Regions from separate parts of the Homo sapiens genome. Here regions 2, 3, 4, 5, 6 and 7 are each linked to region 1. Evidence: fine-mapped expression QTL. A gene starts in region 1. Each other region holds a variant in brackets. All regions are shown on one strand. Distances are from middle to middle. Region 1 holds the start of GCNT1 (glucosaminyl (N-acetyl) transferase 1). Region 2 has its middle 29 kb from the start of RFK. Region 3 overlaps PRUNE2 (prune homolog 2 with BCH domain). Region 4 overlaps LOC105376093 (a long non-coding RNA gene). Region 5 overlaps PRUNE2 (prune homolog 2 with BCH domain). Region 6 overlaps PRUNE2 (prune homolog 2 with BCH domain). Region 7 overlaps PRUNE2 (prune homolog 2 with BCH domain).

Region 1 (4,067 bases):
TTAAAATCAGGCTTTACATTTTTTATTTTTAAGTAAAAGTTCTCAGCTATTCGTGGAAAAAAAAAAAAAAAAAAAAAGCTGCCTACACTGTATGGCTGAATGGGAATTCCTGCATGGATACTCGGTGGAAATGGCCAATATCCACCCAGCCTTAGCAGGTTCCTCTGCAGTCACCTGGGCCCAACCAAGCACTCTTGTGCATTACCTGTTTAGTCCATGTGGATAAAGTGGATTTTGTGATCCCAGTTTTAGGGAAAAACGTTTTTCTTACTGTTAAGCAATTCAATTACAAACGGAAAAGGAGTAACTCCTTAAAAAGTGAGTGGAAGCATTGCTATCATTAATCAAGAATGAACTATAATTAATGAAGGATAGAATCTAGTACAAACTTGGGGCCAAGGCTAAGGAGATCCTTTACAGGGCCAAGTTGAAGGACGGGCAGAGGAGGTGGCAGTGACCGTCAAACCCTCATCATGAAATGGAAAAAATATCAACCTCTCGGCCAATAAAACTTTTTAAAAGTAAATTCATAGTTTGGTATATTGTATTTTAAAATAAAGGAGTTTGCCATTTCTAAGAAATCAGTTTCCCAAAACTACCATTTTAAGGGCCCGAAAAAAATTCCTTTAAGAAAAAGCAGGTATCTACACAGTCTGAGTTTTCCTCCCTGCTAGAACTGAAATCTGTTACGAAAGCCTCCAGCAGGGGGGCCTGCCTGGAATTGCCTAAGCTCCTAGCAGGTAATTTACACTGATCTTTAAAAACTACTAAGCCCTCCTCCTCCCCTCTATAAAACAAACCGGCCTTTCAGAACAGCTCTGGAAGGGGGGCAGAATGCCAGACGAAGAGACAACTTCCAGACCACGTCTCTCACCTCCCACCCATCAAATTCAGCCCACAAAAAGCTGTGGCCGCATTCTCATCTCAAGGCACCACGGCTTTCTTTGAACACCATATATCTTCCCAATTGGCCTCTTGCCCCATTATGTGTAAAAAACCGACTCTCTTTTCTGCAGAAAGAAATAACAAGGCAAAGGGTGTACAGGGCAACGTTTATATGCATCTACAGCATGCCAGGTGCCTACAGAACCTACCTCGGCCTAGGCGGTCCGTGCCCTAGCCGGGATCTGCAGGCGCCCTCATCCACGCTGGGAGACGGGAAGAGGAGAGGGAGGCGTGACAGGCGAGGGTGCCTGTGCTGCGCAGAAAGCGCTGCCAGGAGAAAAGAAGCAGTGAGCAAGGGCTTCTTCCATTTCAAAAACCTAATAACCAAAACTTGGAGGAATCTGCCTGAGATACTTAAAAAAAAGAGGAAAGAGAAACCTAGGAGGGGGTAAAATGCTTTTAAGACGAATCACTTGTTTTCGTAATAGACCCTGCGCGCGAGTTTCCTAGACTGCCGCGAGAAGAAGGAAAGCGAGGGAGCAGGAAAGGAGAGGCTTCGGAGCCCCTAAACTAACGTCTCTTTTCTTATTAGTAATAGTTTGCTCCAGGGTGAGTCATTTATTATCCTAGCGTTGGCCTCTTTATCAGTAAAGTAGGGGTGAAAATGCATCTTAGCCGGGCTGGCGTTAGGATTCAATGAAGTTAAATGAAGTTAAGCCCCTGGCACCCATGGGATGGCAGCGAGTCTGTTCGTTCCCTGCCTATCCACGCCCGCAGCCAACCCCTCCGACATCTAAGCTACACGGACCAGGGGCAAGAGGCCAGAAAGTGACTTTCAGGGGACACGGGGCACCGGCGTCCCAGCCCCACTGAGCGGACGGAAAATGAAGGTGGAAGGAAGAGGCGCCGCTCCATTCCGGTCCCGGGCGCACCCCGGTTCTGCTTCCTCCTCCGCGGGGGAGCCCAGCCCGCCCGGGGCCACGGGGCACTGGCTGAGAGCCGGCTCCCTCCCACCCATCCTTCTCAGCCTTCCCCCACCGCCGGGCGGCCGAGCAGGGGAACACGAGGGAGAGCCGGTTACCTGGAGTGGGCGTCTGACCCCGGAGTCTCAGGAGGATGCCCAGCCGCTCCTGCTCCACCAAGCTCCCGCCCCGCGCCGCGCTCTAGGCGCTCCGGAGCTGCGCCTGCAGCCCTCACACCAGCGTGGCCCGCCCCGGGGCCGCCCCCAGAGGCCCCGCCTTTCTAGGCCCCGCCCACCACGTCCCCGCCTCGCCCACCTGCGCGAGCTCGGGGCTGGGGACTTGCTGCGGACTCGCGGTTCCCGCCTACAGGCGAGGGCGCCCTCTGGGCACTGACGTGGTCTGGGAGTAGCGCTGCGATCCTAGTGCTTCCTCGCTCCTCTTCCTCACTGTGCTCTGATTCTTAAGAGGTGTGTGAGCGGCGTCTTTTTAAACATTTTATGCCTCCCTTCCTCGAAAGCAGGAAACTCGAGAAATGCTGCCTTTTCTGATTTTAAACATGAAAATATGTTACAGAACAACAATAAAATTAAATTCCAAGGTTCTCGATATGTAAAGTTTAGAGATAACCATGTAGGTGTTTTTTTCTCTCCCCTAACGAACCTTGCTTCCTAAATTTAGCATTTAAGAACTCATTACATTCATGTGTATTTCCACATAAAAATTAAGATCAAATTAAACTGTGGAACAATCCACAGTGCTGTGGAAAGTAGGAAAAAACCTTCCCCGCCCTTATAGCACAGATCTTTGTGTCAGTTATAAAAGTTGACACAGTTCTCTTTGTAACAAGGGGAATATTGTGTCTGTGTCTTCTTTCGTTGGATTTTTAGCTCCTAGAAAACAGAACGAGGTCTTATTTGTTTCCATGTTGTTTAAAAAAAATTCTGGCCGGGCGCGGTGGCTCACGCCTGTAATCCCAGCACTTTGGGAGGCCGAGGCGGGCGGATCACCAGGTCAGGAGATCGAGACCATCCTGGCTAACATGGTGAAACCGCGTCTCTACTAAATATACAAAAAATTAGCCAGGCGTGGTGGCGGGCGCCTGTAGTCCCAGCTACTCGGGAGGCTGAGTCAGGAGAATGGCGTGAACCCGGGAGGCGGAGCTTGCAGTGAGCCGAGATCGTGTCACTGCACTCCAGCCTGGGCAACAGAGCGAGACTCCATCTCAAAAAAAAAAAAAAAAAAAAAAAAATCCAACTCAGAGGCCATTAGACTGTGATATGTTTGACACTTGCCTGATTTGTCAACAAAAATTAACATAAGATGATGGTATAGAGGAAGAAAGACTTCCCCTCTACTCTCTGAGGCTTGGATAACTAAGTCTATGAAATAAATTGACTGCAGGTAGATTAACAAGAGAAAAAGTACACAGATTTCGTGTAGGGGGTATCACAGAAAAGAAAAACTAATATTCCCTCTGCCTCCCCCAACAAAAACTGAGATTTTAGGAGCTTGTGTATCCTCTTCATTGGGGAGGGACAATTTAGGGGAGAGGAAATGATTTTGGGAAAAACTCCTGAACTCCTTCAATGGCTAGCTTTGTTTAATATCTCATGAAATTTTTCATGAGCAATTCAAGCATAATTGTTAAGAGCAAGTAGATTAGGTAAATGTAAATGGAATAAAAGTTTATAAACTTTTAAAAATAATTTGTTTTATAAAATTTGTCTACTTAAAAATAGTTTTAAAAATCTTTTTTGGTGACTTGAAATTTCGAACATATTAAATTAAGTAATAGATATTCATTAAATGTCTGAGTCATTTGTAAGTTAAAATACTGACATGTTAATTGCTAAACATAAGTTTAAAGTATAGCCGGGGCTGGGCACAGTGGCTCATGCCTGTAATTCCAGCACTTTGGGAGGCCGAGGTGGGTGGATCACCTGAAGTCAGGAGTTTGAGTCCAGCCTGGCCAACATACCAAAACCCCGTCTCTACTAAAAATACAAAAATTAGCCAGCTGCGGTGGCGTGTGCCTGCAGTCCCAGCTACTCAGGAGGCTGAGGCATGAGAATCGCTTGAACCCGGGAGGTGGAGGTTGCAGTGAGCTGAGATCGTGCCACTGCACTCTGGCCTGCGTGACAAAGCAAGGCTCCATCTCAAAAATAAATAAATTAATTAATTAAAAATAAAATATAGCTGGCTGTTTGCAATGGCTCACGC
Region 2 (4,067 bases), 36 kb after region 1:
TCACTTGAACCTGAGAGGCGGAGGTTGCAGTGAGCCAAGATCGTGCCATTGCACTCCAGCCTGGGCAACAAGAGTGAAACTCTGTCTGAAAAAATAAATTAAAATACTATTCCTTACTAGCTTTGGGTGACGTTTTTCATGTGAACTTTTTGTGATGGTTCAATGTCTTTTTTTTTTTTTTTTTTTTTTTAGACGGAGTTTCGTTCTGTCATCCAGGCTGGAGTGCAGTGGCACGATCTCGGCTCACTGCAAGCTCCACCTCCTGGGTTCACGCCATTCTCCTGCCTCAGTCTCCCAAGTAGCTGGGACTACAGGCGCGTGATACCACGCCTGGCTAATTTTTTGTATTTTTAGTAGAAACGGGGTTTCACTGTGTTAGCCAGGATGGTCTCAATCTCCTGACATCATGATCCACCTGCCTTGGCCTCCCAAAGTGCTGGGATTACAGGCGTGAGCCACCACTCCCAGCCTCGATGTCCTTTTTTATTGAAAGTTCTAGACCAAGTACATTTGTGTTGATTTTAGTTACAAGATGGCTAATTTCATTTTTACTCTTTTCTGAGGTGTGGTGAATGAATCACCTTTGTCTTAACACCAATATGCCACTTTTGACCTTTCCATTTTGAATAGGGCACAAAAAGAGATTTAGTTATCTATCATCCAGTTTTATATTACTCAGCGTGCTCTGTGAAACAGAAAGACTTTAAGGCCCAGGTCTTGTCTATCTAGTTTTTTTCTTTTTTTGAGATGAAAAAAGAGTTTATTTATTACAAACTTTTTGGGCTACTCCAAGATCCAGCCTTACCTGAAGTCCGACACCAGTCCACATTAATTGCTGTGCTATTATCCATTTATTGCCTCTCAGTTCCAAATTCATTCATTACCTACTCTGTGAAAATGGACCTAGGTCTTTTAAATATTGTTCCTTTGCCTGTTGGCACAATGTTAAGCTGTGTCAGTAGTGGAAGCTGGAGAGGCACTACAGGTAGAAACAACTTTTTTTCCCCTAGTTCAAATGTGCACCCGAGGCAGGCTCCTGCTGCACAGACTGCTTCCCCAGGACCCAGGCCTTGATTCCAGGTTCTGCCTAGCTTTTGAAAAATGCAAGGACTTTTAAAGTGTTGAAATACTAGATACTTTTTATAAGATTAAACAAAATATTACAGTCTGATTTTTGCCTGTCTATAAGGATGGATATTCATTTCACTCTTCAATTCTTCCCCCACTCCTGCTGGCTTCTTAGCAACATCACAGTTCAGAAAATGTTTACACAGTCAATTGCTACACCTTTGATTCCAAGGCAAACCATTCTTTGTAATCTCTAGCATCTAGTGCTGAATGCAAGGTAGAAAGTAATATGTCAACAAATAGTTCTGATGTGGTAAATTTTACTGTGAACCAACTCTGTCAGGTTCAAGGAAAAGCAAGCCTTTGATCTAACAAATTATTTCAGATTGTATTTAGAAACACCAACAACAAAAAGGATACTATCTCAATAAATTCCTTGCCATTCTACAGTGGAAATTTTAATGATGGCATTAAATCAATTCACTTCTATGGATTTCATCAAACTATGTCATAGCTTATATTATTCCTAGAAGAGTTGTTGAATCCCCATCTCATGGAAGCTTGAGAAAAAAAGCGTAACATCATCTGTTCCTTTCTCATTGCAGATCTGCAGGAAACATGCCATTTTGCAGTACAAATTAAGTGATTCTTTTGTTCATTAAAAGCTTGCCAAAACTGGTAACTGTGATGACTGACCTCTGTTTTAGTCTGTTTTGTGCTGTTATAACAGAATCCATGAGACTGGATAATTTATAATAAACAGAAATTTATTGGCTTACAGTTTTGAAGACTAGGAAGTTCAAGGTCATGGGGCCAGCATCTTGCAAGGGCCTTTTTGCTGCATCATCCCATGGGGGAAAGGCAAAGGGAGGGTGCAAGAGAGCAGGAGAATGAGCTCACAGTGTCAGCCTTTTTATAATTGGCATTAATTCATTCATGACGTTGGAATTCTCATGACCAAAACACCTCCAATTAGGCCCCACTTCCCAACAGCATTGCATCATTAGGGATTAAGTTTCCAACACATGAACTTTGGGGGACACATTTAAACCACGGCAACCTCCAAGGAGGAAAACATGATGCCTAATGGCAAGGGTGATGGCAATGGTGGTGGTGATCATGGACGACTAAGTTAGAAAAGTATAGATATTTCTCAGTTTACAATGGGGTTATGTCCTGCTAAATCCATCATAAATTGAAAATACCTTAAGTCAAAAATACATTTAATATGCCTAACCTGCTGAGGATCATAGTTTAGCCTAG[G/C]TTAACTTAAATGTGCTCAGAATACTTATTACATTAGTCTACCATTGGGCAAAATCATTGAACACAAAGGTTATTTTATAATAGTGTTGAATATCTCATGTAATTTATTGAATATTGTACTAAAAGTGAAAAAAATAATGGTTAGGCCAGGCATAGTGACTCATGCCTATGATCCCAGCAATCTGGGAGGCTGAGGCAGGCAGACTGCTTGAGCCCAGGAGTTTGAGACCAGCCTGGGCAACATGGAGAAACCTAGTCTCTACAAAAAATACAAAAATTAGCTGGGCATGGTGGCATGCACCTGTAGTTCCAGCTACTCTGGAGGCTGAGGTGGGAGGATCACTTGAGCCTAGGAGGTCAAGGCTGCAGTGAGTGCAGTGAGCCATAATCACACCACTGCACTCAAGCTTGGGTGATAGAGCAAAACCCTGTCTCAAAAAAACCAAAACAAAATGAAAACAAAAAACACCAGAATGGTTGTATAGGTACTCAAAGTATGGTTTCTACTGAATGCATATCATTGTTCCACCATAATAAAGCCAAAAAATTATAAATAAAATTAACATAAATCAAGAACTATCTATCTGCATAGTGAATGGATGAAATATACCGTAGATTAAGATGCTACTGCTGAGTGCCGTGGTTCACACCTGTAATCCTGGCACTTTGGGAGGCCGAGGCGGGTGGATCTCTTGAGCTCAGGAGTTCGAGACCATCTTGGGCAACATGGCTGATATGGTGTGGCTGTGTTCCCACTCATATTTCATCTTGAATTTTAATTCCCATAATCTCCATGTGTCGTGAGAGGGACCCGGTGGGAGGTATTAATAATTGAATCATGGGGGTGGTTTCTCCCATGCTGTTCTCATGACAGTGAGTGAGTTCTCATGAAATCTGATGGTTTTATAAGCTTCTGCTGTTTCCCCTTCTTGCACTCATTCTCTCTCCTGCTGCCCTGTGAAGAGGTGTCATCCACCATGATTGTAAGTTTCCTGAGGCCTCCCCAGCCATGCAGAACTGTGGGTCAATTAAACCTCTTTTCTTTATAAATTACCCAGTCCTGGATATTTCTTCATAGCAGCCTAAGAATGAACTAACATAACGGTAAAACCCTGGCTCTACAAAAAACACAAAAATTAGTCGGGTGTGGTGGCTTGCATGTGTAGTCCCAGCTACTTGGGAGGCTGAGGAAGGAGAATTGTTTGAGCCCAGGAGGTGGAGGCTGCAGACAGCTGTGATTGAGCCATTGCACTTCACCCTGGATGACAAAGTGAGACCATTTCCAAAAAAAAAAAAAAAAAAAAAAACAACCTACAAACAAATTGAGTTGCCATCAATAAGACATTAAATTGTGTGGGTTGTTTTTTGTTGTGGTTTTTTTTTTTTTTTTTTTTTTGAGACAGGGCCTTGCTCTCTCATCCAGGCTGGAGGGCAATGGCTCCATCTCGGCTCACTCAGCCTCCCTCCTGGGTTCAAGCAATTATCGTGCCTCAGCCTCCCTAGTAGCTGGGACTACAGGCACACACCACCATGGTCAGCTAATTTTTGTATTTTTTTTAAATAGAGATGGGGTTTTACAATGTTGGCCAGGCTGGTCTTAAACTCCTGACCTCGTGTGATCTGCCCGACTTGGCCTCCGAAAATGCTAGGATTACAGGTGTGAGCCACTGTGCCCAGCCAACATTTACTTATTTGTAAAAATCCAAATGCTGGCATTGTCCAGGAAAATCTAACAA
Region 3 (4,067 bases), 240 kb before region 1:
TGTTAGGGTTTTTCAGAAAAACAGAACAAATAGGAGATATCTGTATTTAGATCTCCATCTTGCTATCTAGCTAGCTACTGAGAGAATTTTAAGGAATTGGCTCATGCGATTATGGGGGCTGGCAAGTCTGAAGTCTATAGGGCAAGCTGGCAGCCTGGAAACTCAAGGAAGAGTCAGCATTGCAGTCGTGAATGTGAGTTCTGCAGGGCTGCAGGCTGGAAATGCAGGCAGGTTTCTGGGCTGCAGTCTTCAGGAGAATTCCTTCTTCTTCAGGAAACTTCAGACTTTGCTATTAAGACCTTTATCTGATTGGATGAAGGCCCCCTCACATTATGGAAGGTAATTTGCTTTACTCAAAGTCTGCCTATTTCAATGTTAATCACATCTAAAAAAATACTTTTACAACAACATCTAAACTGGTGTCTGACCAAATAACTGGGCACCATAGCCTAGCCAAGTCGAAACATAAACATTAACTATCACAGGTTATAGTAAAAAATCTGATCTATATGTTAAACAAGGATTAAGTCATTAAAATTTTAAAAGTCACTATCTGAATTATATGAAAATGTGATAATCGATATATAGATATATTGGCTTTCCATAGATATGAGCAAGGAAATAATGTGCAAGGGAATTTTAAAAAATCATTTCCAAGAGGATTGAGAAAAGGGATGATATTCAACTGATGAATCTTTTGGAGATACAGGCAGCCATGGGGGATGGAGGGAGGGGGTGGGGGTGGGGTGGGGAAGGAGAAGAGAGGAAATCGTTGTGTCATGTACTTTTGAAACAGTATTGAGACATCACCTGACCCTCATACTTGTGGAGCTGTATCTTGTTTCCTAGCTCTGTGAGGTGAGGTATTCAGTATTCCCTGAAATAAAGATGACCTTCGAACACAGTGTATTTGGTTCTATGGTGATCTGTCTGCATCTTTTCTTTTTAAATTAGTAATTTTCACCTTTTTTCATGTCTGATAACATTGTAGAAAAGAATTTATCTTTCTGCTTATGAGTGACACCGTGAGATCTTTTTGTTTTTCGTGAAGTCAGACTTTTTCTGTCTATGACTTATGGTTGGGGAGTTTAGTACATTGGGTCTTTTATCCACGTGAATGTTGAAAATGAGAAATAGATTTTAAAAATCAGTTGACTCTTTCTCTCAGTGTTGGATAATGGGAACCCTGAGAAACATCAGGCAGACCAAGCTGTACCCCAGTTCTGAACATTTGCCGTTTCTCAGAGGTGAGTTGATGCTCTCTAAACTCCAGTGCGCCCTTGCCTATTCACCATTTTTGGGCTTTGCCCTGTACCAAACCTGGAAGAACAAACTTAGCACTGACTCTGTGTTCATTTATTTTTGTAATTATATTTGATCTGTTGGTGTGGTATGTTGGTGAGTTGGTGGTGATAAGTATCATTAAAAGTCCTTTGCCGGGCACGGTGGCTCACGCCTGTAATCTCAGCACTTCGGGAGGCCAAAGCGGGTGGATCACCTGAGGTCACGAGTTTGAGACCAGCCTAGCCAACACGGCAAAACCCCGTCTGTACTAAAAATACAAAAATTAGCCAGGCATGGTGGCACACGCCTGTAATCCCAGCTACTCGGGAGGCTGAGGCAAGAGAATCGCTTGAACCCAGGAGGCGGAGGTTGCAGTGAGCCGAGATCACACCACTTCATTCCAGCCTGGGTGAAAGACCAAAACTTTGTCAAAAAAAAAAAAAAATCCTTTACATTTGCAGTTTAATTCAGGACTTAGTCTCTTTCCTTCATTTCCTTCTTCTCTCTTGCTTTCTCTCTCTGTCATGCCCTCCACCCACTTCTACATTTCTGGCCAGCCCTACCCAGAGCAGACTTTCCATAGTAAGTGCTTGCAGACTGACAAATAGATTATTTTCTTTGGTCCACCCAAATGACACTTGAGATAGACAGGGCAAGTGTTCCTCTCCCCATTTCCCAGCCAGATGAGCAAACTGACTTAACACATGAACTGCTTCATGTCATCCAGAAATGAGAAAGTGGTGAGGTTAGGACCTAAATTTAAGTCTTCTCTGTCTAGCCCAGTGGTTGTCAATGAAACACAGCTGCCCAAACAAGCATTTCTCTTGAGCTGCTTCTATAGGTTGATGTTTTCATTCCTGTTCTCCCGTTATCTCGTTGAAAGGCACATAAAGTGTAACAGGAGATATTTTGAGACAGACTGAGCCAGAACCCATGCCTGACTCCTCAGACTGTCTTGTGACCTACTGGGCTTTTTTGATACCTGAGTAAATATTTGCTCCCA[C/T]GGTGGATCTGTGAGTGCTTGTGCCATGTCAGTGGGCTGCTCCCCATCTGTGGTGTGTGGGACCAACTCGAGTGGTTGGAGGCCAGAGGGAAGGGAGAGCATCAAAGCCCCTCAATGTTCATTTACGTTTTCCAAATATTTATAGGTGTGGTATTTTGTGGTGAGGGATTTTACAGCCAGAGAGAGCCACAAGTGCCAAGATGAGGTGGTGCAACTCTGTTTCCCCGTGGGAGGAACGCCCACAAAGGAGTCCATTTGTGTTGTATTGGCTTCTAGTTTGAGGAAAAACCCAAGGTGCTTCTCTGGCTGGAAACTTGAAACATCACAACTAGTGGCATTGCTTGCTTTAGGGGGAAAAAAATCTCTATGAAAATTGCTGGTATTTGAGGAAGACAAGAAGCCATGACTTTCGAAAGCAGGGTATATTCGCATATCAGGGGCACAGCAAGAAAGTGATGACACATTCAAATTAGGAAAATTTGAGAGATTTAATAAAGAGAGTATTTACGAAGATGGAGGCAAAGTGTGAGGAACTCACAAGGAATAGTGCGTAGCCCAAGAACAGGAGCAGTACGGCTGTTATTCTTCCTAGACCCCAGGAGTGGGGAGACAGAGTGATGACCAGAACCCAGAAAGACTATTTCAGGTAGAAAAGGCCACCCTGAAAGGCATAGTGACCTAGTGTGAGGGACACGGCCAGCGGGAGGCACTCCCGCCTCTTCCCCCGCATCTCCCACCAGGGATCCTCACTGGTCAAAACCTAGTGGAGGCTGGGCGTGGCGCCTCATGCCTGTAATCCCAGCATTTTGGGAGGCCAAGGCGGGCAGATCACTTGAGGTCAGGAGTTTGAGACCATCCTGGCCAACATGGAGAAACCCCGTCTCTACTAAAAATACAAAAATTAGCTGGGTGTGGTGGCGGGCACCTGTAGTCCCAGCTACTCGGGAGACTGAGGCATGAGAATGACTTGAACCTGGGTGGGGGAGGTTGCAGTGAGCCGAGATCATGCCATTGCACTCCAGCCTGGATAACAAACAAACAAACAAACAAAAAACCTAGTGGAAGTCGGAGGGTGAGGGAGGCTTGGGGCAGAAAGCAAAATGGAGAAAGTAGGAGAGTAGAGCTGACGAAGCAAACAGAAGCTGTTCAGTGCAGCTAGCCGAATTGGAGAGTGGTGGACCTCAGCCTCTGAAAACTGTCCTGAGATGTTCCTGTGCACGATTAGTTAACTGTTTCTCCAGTACATTGGAGGATCAGTTTCTGAGATCTATGTAAGAGTTCTTCAGGAACAAAGGCTATCAAAAAGTCAGTGCAGGATTGGGTAACCCTTTGTAGAAGTCCAAGCTGCCGGTTCTGAACCAGCAGGGAATACTTGCTGACGTCGGAGACATTTTGGTTGTCACAACTGGGGTGGGTACTGCTGTCATCTAATGGGCAGAGGCCAGGGATGCAGTTACATATCCTACAGTGCACAGGAGTGCCCCCCGCCACACAGGGTTATCCAGCCCCAAATGTCAACACTGCCAGTGTCGAGAACTCTGCTCCATCTCTCTGCCTTATTTTATTGCTACTACTTTTTTTTTTCCATCTGAAAAGATCTTCTATTTACTTATTTATTTAATTGATTCTGTTGCATCTGTCTCCACCTATGAGAGTATAACCCCCAAGAAAGCAGGAGTTTGGTTTGTCTTGTTCATCACGGTACCCCTGTTGCTTAGAATAGCACCTGCCACATGTTAGACACCCCATAAATAGGCCTGATTGAATGAATAGAAAAGAA
Region 4 (4,067 bases), 100 kb before region 1:
AAAAGTAGACCTCTGTCTCACACAATACAAAATGGTATAAATTACATAAAGAATGAAGGCTCAGAGCTGGGCACAGTGACTCAAGCCTGCAATCCCAGCACTTTGGGAGGCCGAGGCGGGAGGATTACTTGAGGCTAGGAGTTCAAGACCAGTCCAGGCTGCATAGTGAGACCCCCATCTCTACAAAAAAATTTAAATGTAGCCAAGCATCGTGACATGTGCCTGTAGTCCCACCTACTTTCTGAGACAGGAGGATTGCTTGAGCCCAGGAGTTTGAGGCTGCAGTGAGCTATGTTTGGGCCACTGCACTGTAGCCTGGGCAACAGAGCTAGATCCTATCTCTATTTTAAAAAAGAAAAGAAAAGAATGAAGTCTCAAATGCAAACTAAAACAAAAAAATCATGTAAGAAAACCTAGAGTATGTACAAACTAGAGATGAGGCATACCTTCTTAACAGAGACTGGAATCCCACAAACTTAAGAGAAAAAAAAAACAGAAATATTTGAACATAAACAGATACAAATCCCTTATCTGAAAAATGTGCCAGGTACAAAATCAACTGACAAAAAAAGTTCAAAAAAATGTGTCATGCCAAAGCCAAGGGTCAGTGTCTGTAACATGCAACAAGCTCTTGCAAATAGACAAGAATGAGACAAATAACTCAAAAACCAGCATGAGCTGCCTGCCTGTCAGTTGCCCCATTTTTTTCATCTTTCTATCTCTAAGAGAGGCTGGCTCATCTTGAAGCAGAATGTTCAGAGTCTTGAAATACTACTATTTCATAATTCTGAAGCTGTTAAAACCAAGTAAATGATGACTTTGCTGGTGACTAATACAAAAATGGTTATCTGTTCCTGCCAGTGAGAGAATCAAGTATTTTTCACTTCTCTCTGGCACATTTAAACTGAAAGAAGAATGCCCTTATTCATTGGGTTTCTTTCCTTCTCTTTCTCTCTTTTAGAGTTCACTTAAAAGTTTCCATGATGAGCTTAGTTTCAGATTTGTTTTCTTTTTTTGCAGTAACAGCACTTAATGTTGTTTTGCTTTGCAGAGTAATTCTTCCATCGGAATTTCAGATTTTATTTTATTTTATTTCATTTTATTTTTGAGACAGAGTCTCACTCTGTCCCCTAGGCTGGAGTGCAGTGGCATGATCTCAGCTCACTGCAACCTTCACCTCCCAGGTTCAAGTGATTCTCCTGCCTTAGCCTCCTGGGTAACTGGAATTACAGGCACGTGCCACCAGGTCCAGCTATGAATTTCAGATTTTAAAGTGGGGTATTTTGTTATTTGCAGTATGTCAACTTTCCCCCTCTTCATTTACTCAGTAAGCTTAAGCTAGGTTTGAAAAGAAAATAATAATGACCCAGAGTTGGCAACATAGGGGGAAAATAGAACCTCATCATGTGCCTAAGCCTGTATGCTCACTCACTTGTTACACCCACAAAAGAACTTTCTATTTTAATTCAAATTCTTCCTTCCTCTTCTAAAATATCAATCCAGGCTAAAAACAATGTATGTTTGTACTGAAATCTAAATATATGTTCTACAGAAATTCTAGATCACA[T/C]CTGTGGTGCCAAGGGGCAGAGAGGGACAAATAAAAGTTTTCTTCAAAAACAATATGACAGAAGGGAGTAGCTGGCTTCAGTCTGACTTTCCTACCCTCTCTAAGCCTCAGTTTCCTCATCTGTAAAATGGGAGGGAAATTAGTACCTACCCCATACGGTTGTTTTGGAGATTAAATCAGATAATGCATATGATTTAGCCAAAGAGCGTTGGATTAGTAAGATCTCAATAAATGTTGATTATTATTAGTTTGTTCTTATGTAGGGCCACCAGCACTTGATTAGAAGAGTGGCTGTTTCCATCTCTCTTCCTGGAGGTCATTTTGCCTCTGCAATGTGGAGGGTAAGCCAGCAGTGGTTTTCAAACTGTTCTCAGAGCCCTGGGATTCCACAGAGAGGCCTGTGGGCTGTAGAGGGATCAGCGTGAGGCTGAGATGGTGGGTGAGACTCTGAGACTCCCACTATAGCTTTGATTTTTTTCTATTTTATATAAAAGGAACCTGCCTACATTTCACTTCAAAAACCATTAATCTTTTAATTCTGCAAGGCTAAGGCAATTCTGTTATTCTGTGGGCATTCCTCCTTTTTAAAATGACTTTTCCTAGCTTTTTAGTAATCTTTTTTTTCTTCATTATCCATCCTTAACCACCTGATCCCTCCTGAGAGAAACAAAGCATTCAAGAAGCCACATCTGTGTTAGTATGAATTACTTTGATGTATTATGCCTTTGGGGAGGTGCTTGCATTTTAAAAGAGTCCAAACAAGAAGAGGATAAATAGGATAAAGAAAGATTGCTTTTCTGTTGACAGAAATCCTGGCACTACGGGGAAGACTTTTGAGGGTGGGGTGAGAGGGAAGTCTTTTGTAAAACTGCTAAAATGGCAACTCTAACCATGCCTTAATGAAATAATAACAGCGACTAGCACTGGTAAAGAGATTCTGACTTATACAACAATTTAATCTCCATCTTCTTGGCTGATTTAACACGAGCCTCCTGTAAATGAGGTGCTACTGTTTTCCCATGTCCATTTCCAAGACAAGGACATAGAGGCCCTGCATGGCTCAGTGACTCACCTCAGTTGGCAGAGTTAGGCCCTGACTCGAGTCTCGGGCACTCTCCCCAGGACCACACTGCTACCTCCACCCATTTGGGAAGCCAAGCCTGCTGATACCCAAGGCACCGACTTTTGAACACTCCCTTTGCAGAAATGGCACAAGCTGGGCCACTCATTTTTCTGATGCTTCCTCCTTGGAAAGAAAGGAATGGCTGTAGCAGAACTGTCAGCTCTCAATGAGCTCTTTGTGCAAGTAAATTCCAGAGTTTTTATGAACGATGATTACAGCAAGGGCTGCTTTCCCCCCCCAGTAGTTATGGTCAAAAGATTGCTGTTTCAGCCATGCCTGGCATTCCTCCAGAAAACTCCTGGATATATGCACTATGAGTTGCAGACTTGTGGATTATTGAACCTAGGAGACTGAAGAAACCAAGAAGCTCTCGATTTTAATGAGTAAATGTTTCTTTCCATGTCAAAATCCCTGGTGACACAATTTTTTAAAGTTCCAGAAAGTAAACATAAATGTCATTAATCACTGGAGGAAAGGTTATCTTTTTCTATCATATTTCCACAGAGCAAAGTTGCCTGGTTTTTACTTATACATGTCTATCAAGACTAACTGGCATGAGGACATGTGTGTAATAAGCTCTCAACATATATATTTGTTAATGAATGAGTGAATTAGTATATCCTTTAATTTGGAGGCCAAGCAATCATGATAGCAAAAGCAACAGAAACAACATGATAACTTCCTCTGGGATAGCCCTTCACTATGGTGGACTCTGAAAATTCTAGCACACAGCACTGAAGTTAATTGCTTACTGCACTCAGGGAGATCACTACCTTGACCATCTTCGCCATTGAGTAGGGAAAAATAAGTTGGAATATTGATGATATTTGAGGGTGTGGATGAAAGCAAGCTTTTCATTGCAGGAGCTTGAGATATAGTAGTTTAGGACTGGTAGACACAGCAAGGCAAGAATTTTGAGACAGAATTTTGAAGAGTCTTGGAGAGAAAATCCATTTGTTACAATTCAGTGAAGGGTTCCACAGTATGATGTTCATTCAAATAAATTTTTCCAAAGATATTTGCAACTTTTATTATTCTGAGCAAGAGGTTCCTGGAGTGGAAAAATCATGGTGATGAAGACAGAGGAGGAATAAGGTCATATTCATGAAGCCAAATAGTACAATCAGTTTCACCAACACCAGGGTTTGCAAACCATAGCCCAAAGGCCCAATCTGGTCCATGCCCAGTTTTTATAGTTTTATTGGAGCAGTCCTATGTTCATTCCTTCAAATGTTGTCTGTGACTGCTTCCATGCTACAAACACAGAGTTAAATGGTTATGAAAGAGACCATATGGCCACAGAGCCTAAAATAGTTACTATCAGGCCCTTTACAGGAAAAGTTTGCCAACCCCTGATATGGATGGTAAGCTGTGTGG
Region 5 (4,067 bases), 180 kb before region 1:
TAGGCTGGATGAAGAAATGCTACCAGATGATTGACAGACGGTATGTGGGCTCTATTATTTAATCACTATTTTGATTTTGGTAAACTGAAGACTAAACAACCACATGGTATACTGTTATTATCTTCATTATACACAAGAAGAAACCAAGTCTCAATAAGATCAAATAAATTGTCTAAGTTGCTATTAAGCATGTATTCTTTTCAAAATAGTAAAGGTAATACTGACGAGAATAAAAGCATCATTAAACAAAAATACACCATGTTGGTTATAGATTCATGCACTCTAAGAACACAACCATTCTATTTTACATTTACTTCTATGAGAAAATGACGTTTGAATCATACAAGTTTCAAATTACATCTCAAAAAGCATTCTTGTAATTAATCATGGCCATTCTATATCTTCCTACCAGGTAATAGTAACTTGCATAGAACTCCCTAAAATTATACACACACACACACACACACACACACACACACACACATTTTTGTTGTTGTCGTTGTTGTTGGAGTCTCACTCTGTTGCCTAGGCTGGAGTGCAGTGGCATGATCTTGGATCACGGCAACCTCCGCCTCCTGGGTTCAAGCGATTCTCCTGTCTAACCCACTGAGTAGCCAGGACTTACAGGCGGGCACCACCACGCCCAGCTAATTTTTTTATTTTTATTTTTATTTTTATTTTTAGTAGAGATGGGGTTTCAACATGTTGGCCAGGCCAGTCTCAAACTCCTGACCTCAGGTGATCTGCCTGCCTTGGCCTCCCAAAGTGCTGGGATTATAGGCATGAGCTACCATGCCAGACTTAAATTATATATATTCTTATTTAGGAATATGTTTTATGTTTTAATTCCCACTGAAAATGGGTTAAGAGTAATGTATTTTTTTTCTTTTTTCAAAATAGGTTGAGGAAGAATTTGAAATCATTCATCATTGTTCATCCATCTTGGTTCATCAGAACAATCCTTGCTGTGACACGACCTTTTATAAGGTACAGTTAATGTTGTCATAAAATAAAAGTACTACTAGTAGTTTTAAAAAATATGTACTCATTGTCCTAAAAACAAGAATTCATAAACTAAGAGTACCCAGGGAAATATATTTGTCTCTGTCTTTCCTAGAAAGGTGCTTTGGACTATTCATCAAGAATCCCGAATTAAGAGAGAAAATGCTGTCATGATGAATATTTCCCCCAGATCATTATAAAACAGGACCTCTAAATTGCTTGCTATAAACACGGAAGATGAAGTGGTGGGATTTTCATGCCACATTAGAAAGGAGAATAGATAATACATTTAAAGTGATATGCTATTATGTAGAGAATAGAAAGGTAGAGTAATATGACAATGGAAAGTAAAGATGAATCAAGGGCAGAAACAGAAGCCATATCATGTCTCAATTGTGCCATTTCTTCTGAATAGACCTACACAACGTTTATATAACTACCAAAGTTATATAGAGTCTGGGCAGCCATTTTGAGAGCTGTGTTTTGATCACCCCTGAGGAGTCTTGGTTTCAATTCAGTGAATATTTATTTGTCACTTATTTTATGTTAGGTTTTGCATAACCTTACATCTTAGGGATGCAAAGTAAAATAAGTTATGTTCATAATATAGTAAGACTTCAAATAGTTAAATGAAAGGGATAGTATTTACTTTCTAGATAGCTTTAAAAACAATAAAATTTGCCCACCATCAGGGTACAGATTAGATTAATTGAAATTTTCCCATCTCAAAGTTATTAATGAATTTCTTTTAAAAATTCTGATAAC[T/G]TTGCTTCTGGGGAAAAAGATAAACTTTAAAATCTTTTTTTTGTGTGTACATAGATTTTACTGTAGCTTCCAAATTCTACCTTTCTTGTTAAGTATTTAGTTATATTTATTTATTATTCTTATTCCCCACTTCCAATTGCTAATGCTGAAAAATATACCTGAAAATCAAGAATTGTTAAAATGGTAAACTGAAGGCTAAACAATCACATGATATACTGTTATTATCTTCATTATACACAAGAAGAAACCACTGAAAAAACGAAGTTATCAGAATTTTTAGACGAAATTAATTAATAATTTTAAGATGGGAAAATTTCAATTTATCTTCAATTGAGTAGCAGGATTCACCCTAGTTTCCCTCTGGCAAAGATTAGCTGTTTACCATACTGTGTTAAATTGCTTTTAAAAATATTATGAGCAGCCAAGCGGGGTGGCTCACACCTGTAATCCCAGCAGTTTGGGAGGCCAAGGCGGGCAGATCACTTGAGGTCAGGAGTTTGAGACCAGCCTGGCCAACATGGTGAAACCCCATCTCTACTAAAAACACAAAAAATTAGCCAGGCATGGTGGTGGTGTGCCTATAGTCCCAGCTACTAGGGAGGCTGAGGCAGGAGAATCGCTTGAACCTGGGAGGAGGTTGCAGTGAGGCAAGATCACACCACTGCACTCCAGCCTGGGCAACAGAGTGAGACTGTGCCTCCAAAAAACAAACAAAAATATTAGACCTATTTAAGGTATACAAAGAGCCACTTATTTTAATATTTTCAGGAAATGTTGTAACTAGGGAGTAGGAATCAATGTATGCTGATAAGCTTTCAAAAAGTTTAATGGGTAGAAAGGTAAACATTAGCATAGTTACTGATTCATCGATGTTTGCTTAATAATTCAGCACTTATAAAACAAATGTTTTTTCTTGATTAAGTAATGTTAAAAGATAAACTTTAGACAAATCAATCAGTTTATTAGAGCAAAAAATGATTTATGAATCCAGCATGACTTAGAACCAGGAGAGGTTCAGAGAGCTCCTCCCAGCAAAGTGGGCAGACAGTATTTGTCCAGAGAAAAGCAAGGTGATGTATAGAAATAGCTTGATTGGGTACAGCTCAGCAGTTATCTTATTTGGGTACAGTGTGATGAAGCATTTGCCTTATATGGTCATGGTCTGATCATTTGGCAACCTGTGATTGCTGAAGCTCAGCTGCTTTGATTGGCTGAGACTCAGCTAGTCTTTGCAAAAATATACTCATAAGTTAGGTTGGAATTTTGTTTACATACTATGTTAGGTTGCAGTTAGCTACCTAGGAACTCAAACTACAGAGAAAGCCTCAAGCCAAATGTAGTTTAACAATAAGAAAACATTTGTTACTGTAAGGCTATTAAACATTATTATAATTCAACACTACTTATTGAAGGGAGCTTCAAGATAATAACAACAACAGTAATAATAAAATTATAGCAACAGTGTTGTGGTAAATTATGACTAATAATGGCTTAATTTATTGAGTGCTTATTTGCATTATCTCATTTAACCTAATGACAGTCCTCTGAAGTAGATACTTTTTTGTTTGTTTTTTGTTTTGAGAGACGGTCGCCTTCAGTCACCCAGGCTGGAGTGCAGTGGCACGATCATGGCTTACTGCAGCCTCAGACTCCTGGGATCAAGCAATCCTCCCACCTCAGCCTCCTGAGTAGCTGGGACTATAGGTGTATGCCACCACAATCAGCTAAATTTTTTTATTTTTTTGTAGATATGGGGTCTCATGTTGTCCAAGCTGGTCTCAAACTCCTAGGCTCAAGCAATCTGCCTGCTTTGGCCCAAAGTGCTGAGATTACAGGCATGAGCCACCATGCCCAGCCTGAAGCAGATACTGTTTACTATTTCCATTATATAGGAAAAACTGCTGAGGTTCAGGGAGGTCAAATAAATTGTCTAAAGCAGGAACCAGCAAACATTGTTTATAAAGATTCAACTAGTAAATAGTTTAGGCTTCACTGGCCCTATGATTTCAGTTACAGCTACTCAATTCTGCCATTATAGAGCAAAAGCAGCCGTAGGAAACATGCAAACAAGTAAGTGGCTGTGTTCTGATGAAACTTTTTTTTTTTTTTTGAGACAACCTCACTCTGTTGCCCCAGGCTGGAGTGCTGTGGTGCGATCTCGGCTCACTGCAACCTCTGCCTTCCCATGCTCAAGTGATTCTCCCACCTAAGCCTCCCAAGTAGCTGGGACCACAGATATGTACCACCACGCCTGGCTAAGTTTTTGTATTTTTGGCAGAGACAGGATTTGCCATGTTTCC
Region 6 (4,067 bases), 160 kb before region 1:
CTCCATCTCTACAAAAAAAAATTTTTTTAATTAGCCAAGTATGGTGGTATGTGCCTGCAGTCCCAGCTACATGGGAGGCTGAGGTGGGAGGATCCATTGAGCCCTGGAGTTCAAGGTTGCAGTGAGCTAATTGATCTTACCACTACACTCCAGCCTGGGCAACGGAGTGAGACCCTGTCTCAAGAAAAAAAAAAGTCTGCATTTCTAACAAGTTCCCAGTGATGCTGATGCTGCTGGTCTCAGGACCCAGCTTTGAGAACCACTGCCTAAAAGTCAAGGGCCAAATAAAAATAATCAGATTTGTTTTGGAGGTCTATGCTCTTGCTTTGGATTCAGTGGGTAAGCCATCTGCCTGAAGAATCCTCCCTCTAGGATCTTTTGATCCTACCTTTTTGATGGTAACATCACATGTATGAGGAATTGAAATATATTTGCACATTTGAAAATGTGTACAGAGAAAAAATTCTACTCTGTTGACCCCACAGGTGATTGGAATGCCTTAGAATCCCACCATCTCGGCCACCAGCAACATTTTTTCAACTACCTTTTAGCCTCTGAAGTAGCCCCTGAATTCTAGGAGAAACTGTATGATAAACATGATCACTGCAGATCTATGGTTAGAAGCCAGACATGCCCAGGTTCTTCCTGTTGACAGATGCGCCTGACTTTCCACATGACTTGTTCAGAAAGCTTCAGGCTAGGTCTAACCAAAGGCAAACGTACACTTGGTCAGGGAACAAAACCTATCTGTCCACTGTTTTGCTTTATGCCCACTAGTTTCTCAACATTCTCCCTCTCCCCTCACACACACACATACCACCACTCAAACTGCACCCCAACTCTAATTGACTTCAGAAGGTGATTTCCTCAGCCTGCCTTATCTTTTCTTTAAAACCTTAGCTGTATACAGGAAAGAAAGTATTATACTTCTGAAGGATAAATAGTATACCTAGAACCATTCTTATTTTGAAAATTGGGAAGCATCCGTGTGTTGCCTTTGGAGTGACAGTATTAAAGGGTTTGCAAATTGCTGTTTTCCTTGGGAGGATTACTCAAAATTAAAAAGCAGAAAAGCTGAGTTTGGAAGATTGCCCTTTCTTGATTCCATTCCAGCTTTGCTAGGTTTTTTTTAGCACGCTGTCAACACTTACTTGACTGTCCTTGCTCACTGGAATTCCCAAATATTCCCTATAAAAATATCAGACCACCAGCAAGAAGGGTGGGGAGTGAGAAAGGAAGGTTGCTATCTCACCTGGGGAGATAGCCGCCTGTCATTTTCAACAAAACACCTGACCTTCATCATGGATCCTCTTATGTGCAAACAGATAAATTAGCTTGTGAAATTATATTACTAAGAGGACAACTGCACTTAAAAAGGATCATAGAAGCTCTTTAAATAGAATAGTGTTTGTTTGTCAATAATAAAATATTTATGGGAGGCCGGGCACAGTGGCTCACGCCTGTAATCCCAGCACTTTGGGAGGCCGAGGCAGGAGGATCGCTTGAGTCCAGGAGTTTGAGACCAGCCTGGGGCAACATGGCAAAACCCTACCCCTACCAAAAATATGAAAATTAGCCGGGCATGGTGGCATGCAGCTGTAGTCCCAGCTACTTGGGTGGCTGAGGCAGGAGAATCGCTTGAACCTGAGAGGCAGAGGTTGCAGTGAGCCAAGATAGTGCCACTGCACTTCAGCCTGGGCGACAGAGCAAGACTCTGTCTCAAAAAAAAAAAAAAAAATTATGGGAGGGGTATAAAAGTTGAGGTGTAATGAGTATTCATCAAGAATTAATAGGAAGCAAATTTGAAATTTGCTCACAGAGAAATCACACCAGTATATCAAAAACAGCTAATACTACACAAAAAACATAAATGCCATAAAAACACTTTTATTTATTATTTTATAAGGTTACATTTGTTTTCTGGGCATACTCAGTTGAGGTAAATGGTAGGATTCATTTGTATCACCTGGACACAGCTCAGCTGTATGGAGTGGTAAGTGTCCTGTTATTTCTGTAACAACAACAATGAGGAGAGCTGACGCTGACATTTTTTCTTTCAGTGTATTGGGAAATCCTCATTCTCGTGAAAACTGAAAATTAACTGTGTTCATGGGTGAATAAAATTAGGCTGCTTGAGAGGGATTTTC[C/T]TCTGTGTGTATTTTATTATTTGGGGTACCAAAACAATTTTGTAATATGTCCCCTGAATAAGACAAATTGAAAAGGCAGGGAAAAATGAGGACAGAAGAGACCACTGGAGGTGTTTGGAGTTTTTAATCTTTGCTTTGTGTTTTTATATCATGGGCAATCACTTGTATTTCAAAACCAATGGTAAGGGTTACAGCTTAATCTTATCATCTGTTCAGGTATGGATTTGTTCAGTATTAGCAATGGGACCACATTAAACAGTTTCAAATGCCTCAAATCTGTTGTGCTTTCACAGTGGTGACAGTGGGGAAATGTTGACTGCTTCCTATTTTTTCCTTGCACTCAGAACTAGCTGCCTTTACAATGATCCAGAAATGTCTTCTATGGAGAAGGAGTAAGAATTCACCATCAATAACAGCTATGTGGTTACTTGTAGTGTTGTATGGCTGGGCTCTGAAAGAAAACACACTGAGGACTGGGTAAACCCTGTTTAGATGTTCAGCTTTCCTGTGCTCCATTCCTGAAATTAGAAACCTGAAGCTATATTTGCCAGCTTCACACCATTTCATTCACGATCACCCCTTAAATTTCTAAAGGACAACCTGTGGACATGGCATTCTATTTTTCCAATCCAAAAATGGGAAGAAAATGAATATTAGGACCAGATGTAAGAACATTTGGGCAAGAGGAATGCAATTCTGCTTTCTGAATGACATCATCTCTATTTTAATTAGTGGAAGTTGGAACTTCCATTTAATACTTTGGTGGATGGAGAGAAAATGTGCTTGTTTTGCAACATCCAGGAGGAATTCGAGCCTGTATGAGACTGTAGGAATGATCTATTTAGAGGATTGCCATCCTGTGAGAAGCAGAAATTGGACATGTAGTGAGTTCTTAACCACGTTCCAGACTGTAAAAAGCTTCACACGCAGTGTCTGATTTTAATCCTCAGAATAAGTTTATGAGGTACATTTCACAGATGAGGAAAGAGAGGCATGGAGAGACGATCTGACCAGCCCACTGTTTTACAGCTGTAAAAATGGCCCAGAGCTGGAATTTGGACCTTGGCAGTATAGCTCCAGGGCCAATGGTTTTTAAATCAGAAAGAGGTGGTCTTAATGCTAGATGGGTGTACCACTTCCAATTTAATGAAAGACAAAACTATTCACCTAAGAGAACAGAGCGAATTAGTGGCCAAGTCAGTTTCAGGGAATAAACTGTGGTCACCAGCAAGCTTTCAGAGAGAACTTGGTCATCCGACAAGGAGCTTCCAATTTGGTTTGAGTTGTGGAGAATTTAACATTGCCCTTGTTCCTAGCAATCAGGAAGCAGAGGGGAAAGATCAGTTTTAAATGTGTCTCATCTCTATTGTCACCTTTTGCTGTCTTTGGACCTCCTTTGCGTTGAGGTCCAAAAGGAAGTTGGAAAATTATAGTGAAATATCTTCACATTTGCCATGTTGACCTTGCAACTTAAAGGAAGTTTAGGCACAAAAACTCCAGAGACAGTCCCAACTGAAAAAGTTCACAAAGAGCAAAGACTGGGCCAATTCTGGATGCATGCCTATGAGTTAGCCCTGCTCTGCAAGGAAAATTTATTTTTTCTAAATAAAATTTTAAAAAAAGAACAAAGACCATAGAGAGACCTTTGAAATCACACAGCTATTTTTCCAAAGGTCACTGTTGTCCCACCTCTTTTAGATGAAGATAACAATTGCTTCAAGGAAATTGGCACATGAAATTCTGCAAAGCAATAATACCTCAATTCCCCAGTGCACGATAATTCTTTTTGCAACTATTTCTTCCCTCAGCAAAACAGCACCCCCCTTGAGCAGTTAACAGAGCCCACAGTTAACAAGCAGCAGAGAGGGCACATGTGGAAGCCCAGCCAATGGCTGGCCCATCGCTGCTACATCTTGGGGC
Region 7 (4,067 bases), 200 kb before region 1:
AAGTTTCACTATGTGGTGAGACATTCTGAGGAGCACTTTACCCAAAGGGCAGGGCACCTTCACGTGTCTAAATCTGTGTTGTTCAATAGTGACTCATTCATCTCCACCATGTGCTGAGCCCTGTGCTAAGCACTGGGTGTGCTTGTCCCCCAGGAGATTCATGTGTGTGTGGAGAGGGTGGCAGTGGGGAGGAGTGGGGGCAGACACATTTCAAACAGGAAATCATAGGAACATGGCAGCATCCACGTGAGGTAAGCACAGGGTGCTATGGGACATGACCCGACTCTGTGGGGAGGAGGTGAGGTCCCAGGTCCCCACTCTGTGGGATGGAGGTGAGGTCCCAGGACCTTACTCTGTGGGGTGGAGGTGAGGTCCCAGATCCCGATTCTGTGGGATGGAGGCGAGGTTCCAGGATGGAGATGTCCACACTGAGTAGTACAGGACAGCAAGATTGGCAAGGCTAAGTGGGGAGTGGGGAATGAGAAAGGAGGCTTGAGTCTGGGCTTAGGGGCCAGGTCAAGAGGGCCTTGTGAGCCCTTCTCTGAAGCCAAATTCTTTCCCTGAAGTGGTGAATTGAAAGGATTTAAACACAAGAAGGTGGTGTCAAGGTTAAGATGAAGAAGGATATTAGTTATAATTTGGAGGAGGTAGGGATGACGATCGTAAACAGAAAGGTGGTGATGTTTCTGCATGAAAAAAATGAACTTGAACTAAGGCTTTTGTAGTGAGAATGGAGTGGAGAGGATGACATAAATTTATAGGATTGGATGGCCAACTGGATGAGGAAGAAATGGTGGGAAAGAAAAGAAAGTAAGAGTGAATGCCAGTTTGGGAGCTTGAGTGCCCAGGTGATATGTAGAGACATTCACTAGGATGAGGAATGTATTAGTTAGCTATTGCTGTATAATAAATAATCTCGGCCAGGTGCAATGGCTCATGCCTGTAATCCCAGCACTTTGGGAGGCCGAAGTGGGAGGATCACTTGAGCCTGGGAGTTGGAGACCAGCCTGACCAACATGGTGAAACCCCATCTCTCCTAAAAATTAGCTCGGCATGGTGGTGCACGTCTGTAATCCCAGCTACTCGGGAGGCTGAGGCAGGAGAATCACTTGAACGCAGGAGATGGAGACTGGAGTGAGCCGAGATCGCTCCATTGCGCTCCAGCCTGGGCAATACAGCAAGACCCTGTCTCAAAAAATAAATGAATAAAATAAATAATATCAAAGTTTAGCAGCTTAAAACAACAAACATTGATTATTTCCCAGTGTTTGTAATAGGAATTCAAGAGTGTATTAGCTAGATGGTTCTGGCTTAAGGTATCTTGTTAAGTTGCCATCAAGACATTAGCCAGGCTGCAGGATCTGCCTCCAAGATGGCTCGTTCACATGGCTGTTGGCAGAAGGCTTCAGTTCCTTCCTGGATTTTCACAGGAAGCCTCAGTTCCTTGCCACATGGACTCTCCACAGGGCTGCTTGACTGTCCTTACAACAGGGTAGCTGGTTTCTCCCAGACTGAGAGACCCAAGAGAGAACAAAGCACACAGTGCTTTTTAGGACCT[A/C]GCCTTAGAAGTCACCTACCATCCATTCCACCTTATTCTGTTCTTTAGAAGCAAATCATCAGTCCACACTTAAGGGACGGGAAATTAGGCTCCACCTTTTGAAAAGAGTGTCAAAGAATTCATGGACACTTTTCAAAGTCGTCACAGAGAAGGTAGGATGTAGCGGATCTGCGTAGAGGAAGATGTGGGATTAGGTTTTGAACATGTTCAGTTTGAGATCCCTTTGAGCCATCCTGGTTGTGAACTGTAAACTCACTTCCTAAATAAGTATATGCCCCTCTCCAATGTGAGATTATGCCATCTAATTTAATCTTCTCCACAACAAACAAATCTATTCATAGATCTTAAGGTTATAGGAAAAATATTAAAAGAAGCTAGCAAATAGCCTGCAGGCAAGAGGTAGAATTCTCCATGCATCCATCATTCACAGCCAAGGAGTTAATTATTCTCTGAAAAGCAAAGAGGTTGAAATGATAAAAATGTAGGCTTTCCTTCTATTCCTGCTCAGCGTTCCTCAAATTTTCATGTTTAAGCCTCACTGTAAAAAGAAAAAAAAATTGACATGCAAAACCATGTACACTCTATTCAGGGAACAATTCAAGAAAATGTTTGAGGATCATTGAGCTACAAGTGATTTTTTTGCTCCCTGCAGAATTTTAGAATCTGACCCTGGGTAAGGAGGCTGCGTCGTGTCCCCCACCTCTGAGAACCTGAGAATGTTTAGCTGTGGTTTCTGCAGTTTTGCACATTCCCTAAAGAAGGTGTCTGGGCGAGTGCTCGGCGCTTATCTTCCTACTGTGTGCAGTCAGTTTCCAGCTCTCACCTCCCTCCTTCATCTCTCTTCAGCTGGCTGGCTTCTAAGATGCTTCTCCCTGCCTGGCCACAGTGCTTACCTGTTCTAGGATGAGAGAGGCCCAGCTGGGTTAGCGAACTGTTGCTAAAGAGCGTTATTTCATGGGCTTGACCCCAGCTTCCTATTGTAGCATTTCCTGTCTTGGGATTAGCTTGATTAGGCAAAGTGTGAAGCTCAGTGCTGCTTCAGTCTCACCTCCTACTTTGAGTAATTTGATAAGTACTCTGTGGTTCACAGGGTGCCATGTACTGCTGGCTTAAATGGAGCAGCCTACTTTATCAGACAAGAACCCTCAAATGGCAGTCCTCCAGCCCATAGGCTAATTGATATTCTTAACGAGGGAAGGCAAGCACCTCATGAAAGGTTTTGTTTGTGTTTTCTTTTTTCTTTTTATCTCTGTTTCTAGAGACAGCAACCTTATCAGTCCAGCAGATCTTAATAGACTAGAAAGAAGCCAGGAGAGTATTAAGGAACTCTTAACACAAGAGATATTTCTCTTTATGTAATCATTTTCCCAAAATATATCAGCATAACCGTCAGTATTTTTCTAAAGAACAATGGACCCCATGTCATGACCTGCTACTTTACTTTTTATGGAGGTATATATTTCAGTGGCCAATCTTGTAAAAGTGGTTATTCCTGAAAAGGGGTGCCACCTGCTGCTGGATATCCGTGTCTGTCAGGAAACATTACCATCTAGAAATGCTACTGGTATGTGTGTGCCAGCTCTTGGCTCACTGCTCATTTCCTGTTAAAAAGAACCTAATCTCAGGCAAAGCTAATCCTACAACAACAGTCAAATCCCTCCAGATTCAGATACGTTGAAAAAATACAAAATGCAGAATGGGCTTAATTTTGTACCTGTTCTAAAGGCAAGAAGGTGCATTTATGTCCAAAAGTTCTGCATTTGTTGTCCTTCATTCTCTGTCACATACTGCAATTAGCCTTCCATATGAAGAAATGTAAGTATCAGAAACACACAATCTACGAATATACGTGGGCTTCATTCTCAAATTGGAGACTTCCATTTCTATCACCGTTCTTTCTCCATTTGGTGGTATTCAGGATCATTAGAGAAGGTGCAAAGATTTAGCATAAATAGCATCAAGTCACCTAAGAGCATGTTTCTTTTTATAACTTCCTGGGCTGAGTTGAATGCTTAGCTAATTCAGTTCATCTTATTTCCTAAAATCTGAACTTAAGGCTATTTATTTTCCTCTAGGAACTTCTTTAGCTGCTTTCACAAGTTTGGATGTGCAGGGCTTTATTGTTTGGTTACTTACACGTGTGTTTTTTAGTCTCCAAACTGTGATTGGAGACTTTTTGTGATTGATAACTAGAGGTATGGCCCCGAAGTCAGAGAATATAGTACATGTGATGTTGACTTTTGGTATTTTATGAGACATCACGTATGGTAAGTTTTGGTGAGTTCAAAAAAAAAAAACTGTGTTTTTATTGACTGCAGATCTCTCCATTAGATCAAGCTATATTACTGCATTGTTCAGATCTGCCATATTCTTATATATTTCTTTTCAAATTAATTTATAAATTCTTGAGAGGTATACTCAGATTTTACCCCATGAAATTTATTTTGCCTTATAATGTATTTTCAATTTTTGTTTTACATATTTTGAGGCTATGTTGTTAAGAACACAT

Evidence for each region. PIP is the estimated chance that this variant, and not a neighbour inherited with it, causes the effect.
Region 2: its variant is the best candidate, but not a certain one, in a credible set for the expression of GCNT1 in T cells (TOPMed, PIP 0.53).
Region 3: its variant is the best candidate, but not a certain one, in a credible set for the expression of GCNT1 in whole blood (TOPMed, PIP 0.67).
Region 4: its variant is the best candidate, but not a certain one, in a credible set for the expression of GCNT1 in whole blood (TOPMed, PIP 0.64).
Region 5: its variant is the best candidate, but not a certain one, in a credible set for the expression of GCNT1 in whole blood (TOPMed, PIP 0.62).
Region 6: its variant is the best candidate, but not a certain one, in a credible set for the expression of GCNT1 in thyroid (GTEx, PIP 0.50).
Region 7: its variant is the best candidate, but not a certain one, in a credible set for the expression of GCNT1 in whole blood (INTERVAL, PIP 0.65).

Annotation. Positions count from the first base shown.
Region 1 is chr9:76,457,205-76,461,271 of GRCh38, reverse strand. It overlaps GCNT1 (glucosaminyl (N-acetyl) transferase 1), which reads right to left and starts at 2,090. Exons shown (of 4, transcript NM_001490.5): 1 at 1,967-2,090; 2 at 1,095-1,212. RefSeq lists silencers at 706-775, 1,766-2,305 and an enhancer at 1,046-1,155.
Region 2 is chr9:76,421,261-76,425,327 of GRCh38, reverse strand. It overlaps a transcript of GCNT1 not described here. Among named protein-coding and RNA genes, the nearest start is that of RFK, 29 kb to the right of the region's middle. The variant G/C (reference allele first, on the strand shown) is at 2,332.
Region 3 is chr9:76,695,714-76,699,780 of GRCh38, reverse strand. All of the region lies in intron 9 of PRUNE2 (prune homolog 2 with BCH domain), which reads left to right. Among named protein-coding and RNA genes, the nearest start is that of PCA3, 67 kb to the left of the region's middle. The variant C/T (reference allele first, on the strand shown) is at 2,288.
Region 4 is chr9:76,559,438-76,563,504 of GRCh38, reverse strand. It overlaps LOC105376093 (a long non-coding RNA gene), which reads right to left. Exons shown (of 3, transcript XR_007061584.1): 1 at 2,640-4,067. Among named protein-coding and RNA genes, the nearest start is that of GCNT1, 100 kb to the right of the region's middle. The variant T/C (reference allele first, on the strand shown) is at 1,568.
Region 5 is chr9:76,633,391-76,637,457 of GRCh38, reverse strand. It overlaps PRUNE2 (prune homolog 2 with BCH domain), which reads left to right. Exons shown (of 19, transcript NM_015225.3): 14 at 1-40; 15 at 901-987. The region is part of intron 6 of LOC105376095 (a long non-coding RNA gene); the gene reads right to left. Among named protein-coding and RNA genes, the nearest start is that of PCA3, 130 kb to the left of the region's middle. The variant T/G (reference allele first, on the strand shown) is at 1,768.
Region 6 is chr9:76,617,812-76,621,878 of GRCh38, reverse strand. PRUNE2 (prune homolog 2 with BCH domain) reads left to right here. Exons shown (of 19, transcript NM_015225.3): 18 at 2,492-2,539. The region is part of intron 5 of LOC105376095 (a long non-coding RNA gene); the gene reads right to left. Among named protein-coding and RNA genes, the nearest start is that of PCA3, 140 kb to the left of the region's middle. The variant C/T (reference allele first, on the strand shown) is at 2,148.
Region 7 is chr9:76,661,664-76,665,730 of GRCh38, reverse strand. The region is part of intron 9 of PRUNE2 (prune homolog 2 with BCH domain); the gene reads left to right. It overlaps LOC105376095 (a long non-coding RNA gene), which reads right to left. Exons shown (of 12, transcript XR_007061586.1): 12 at 1,192-2,096. Among named protein-coding and RNA genes, the nearest start is that of PCA3, 100 kb to the left of the region's middle. The variant A/C (reference allele first, on the strand shown) is at 1,559.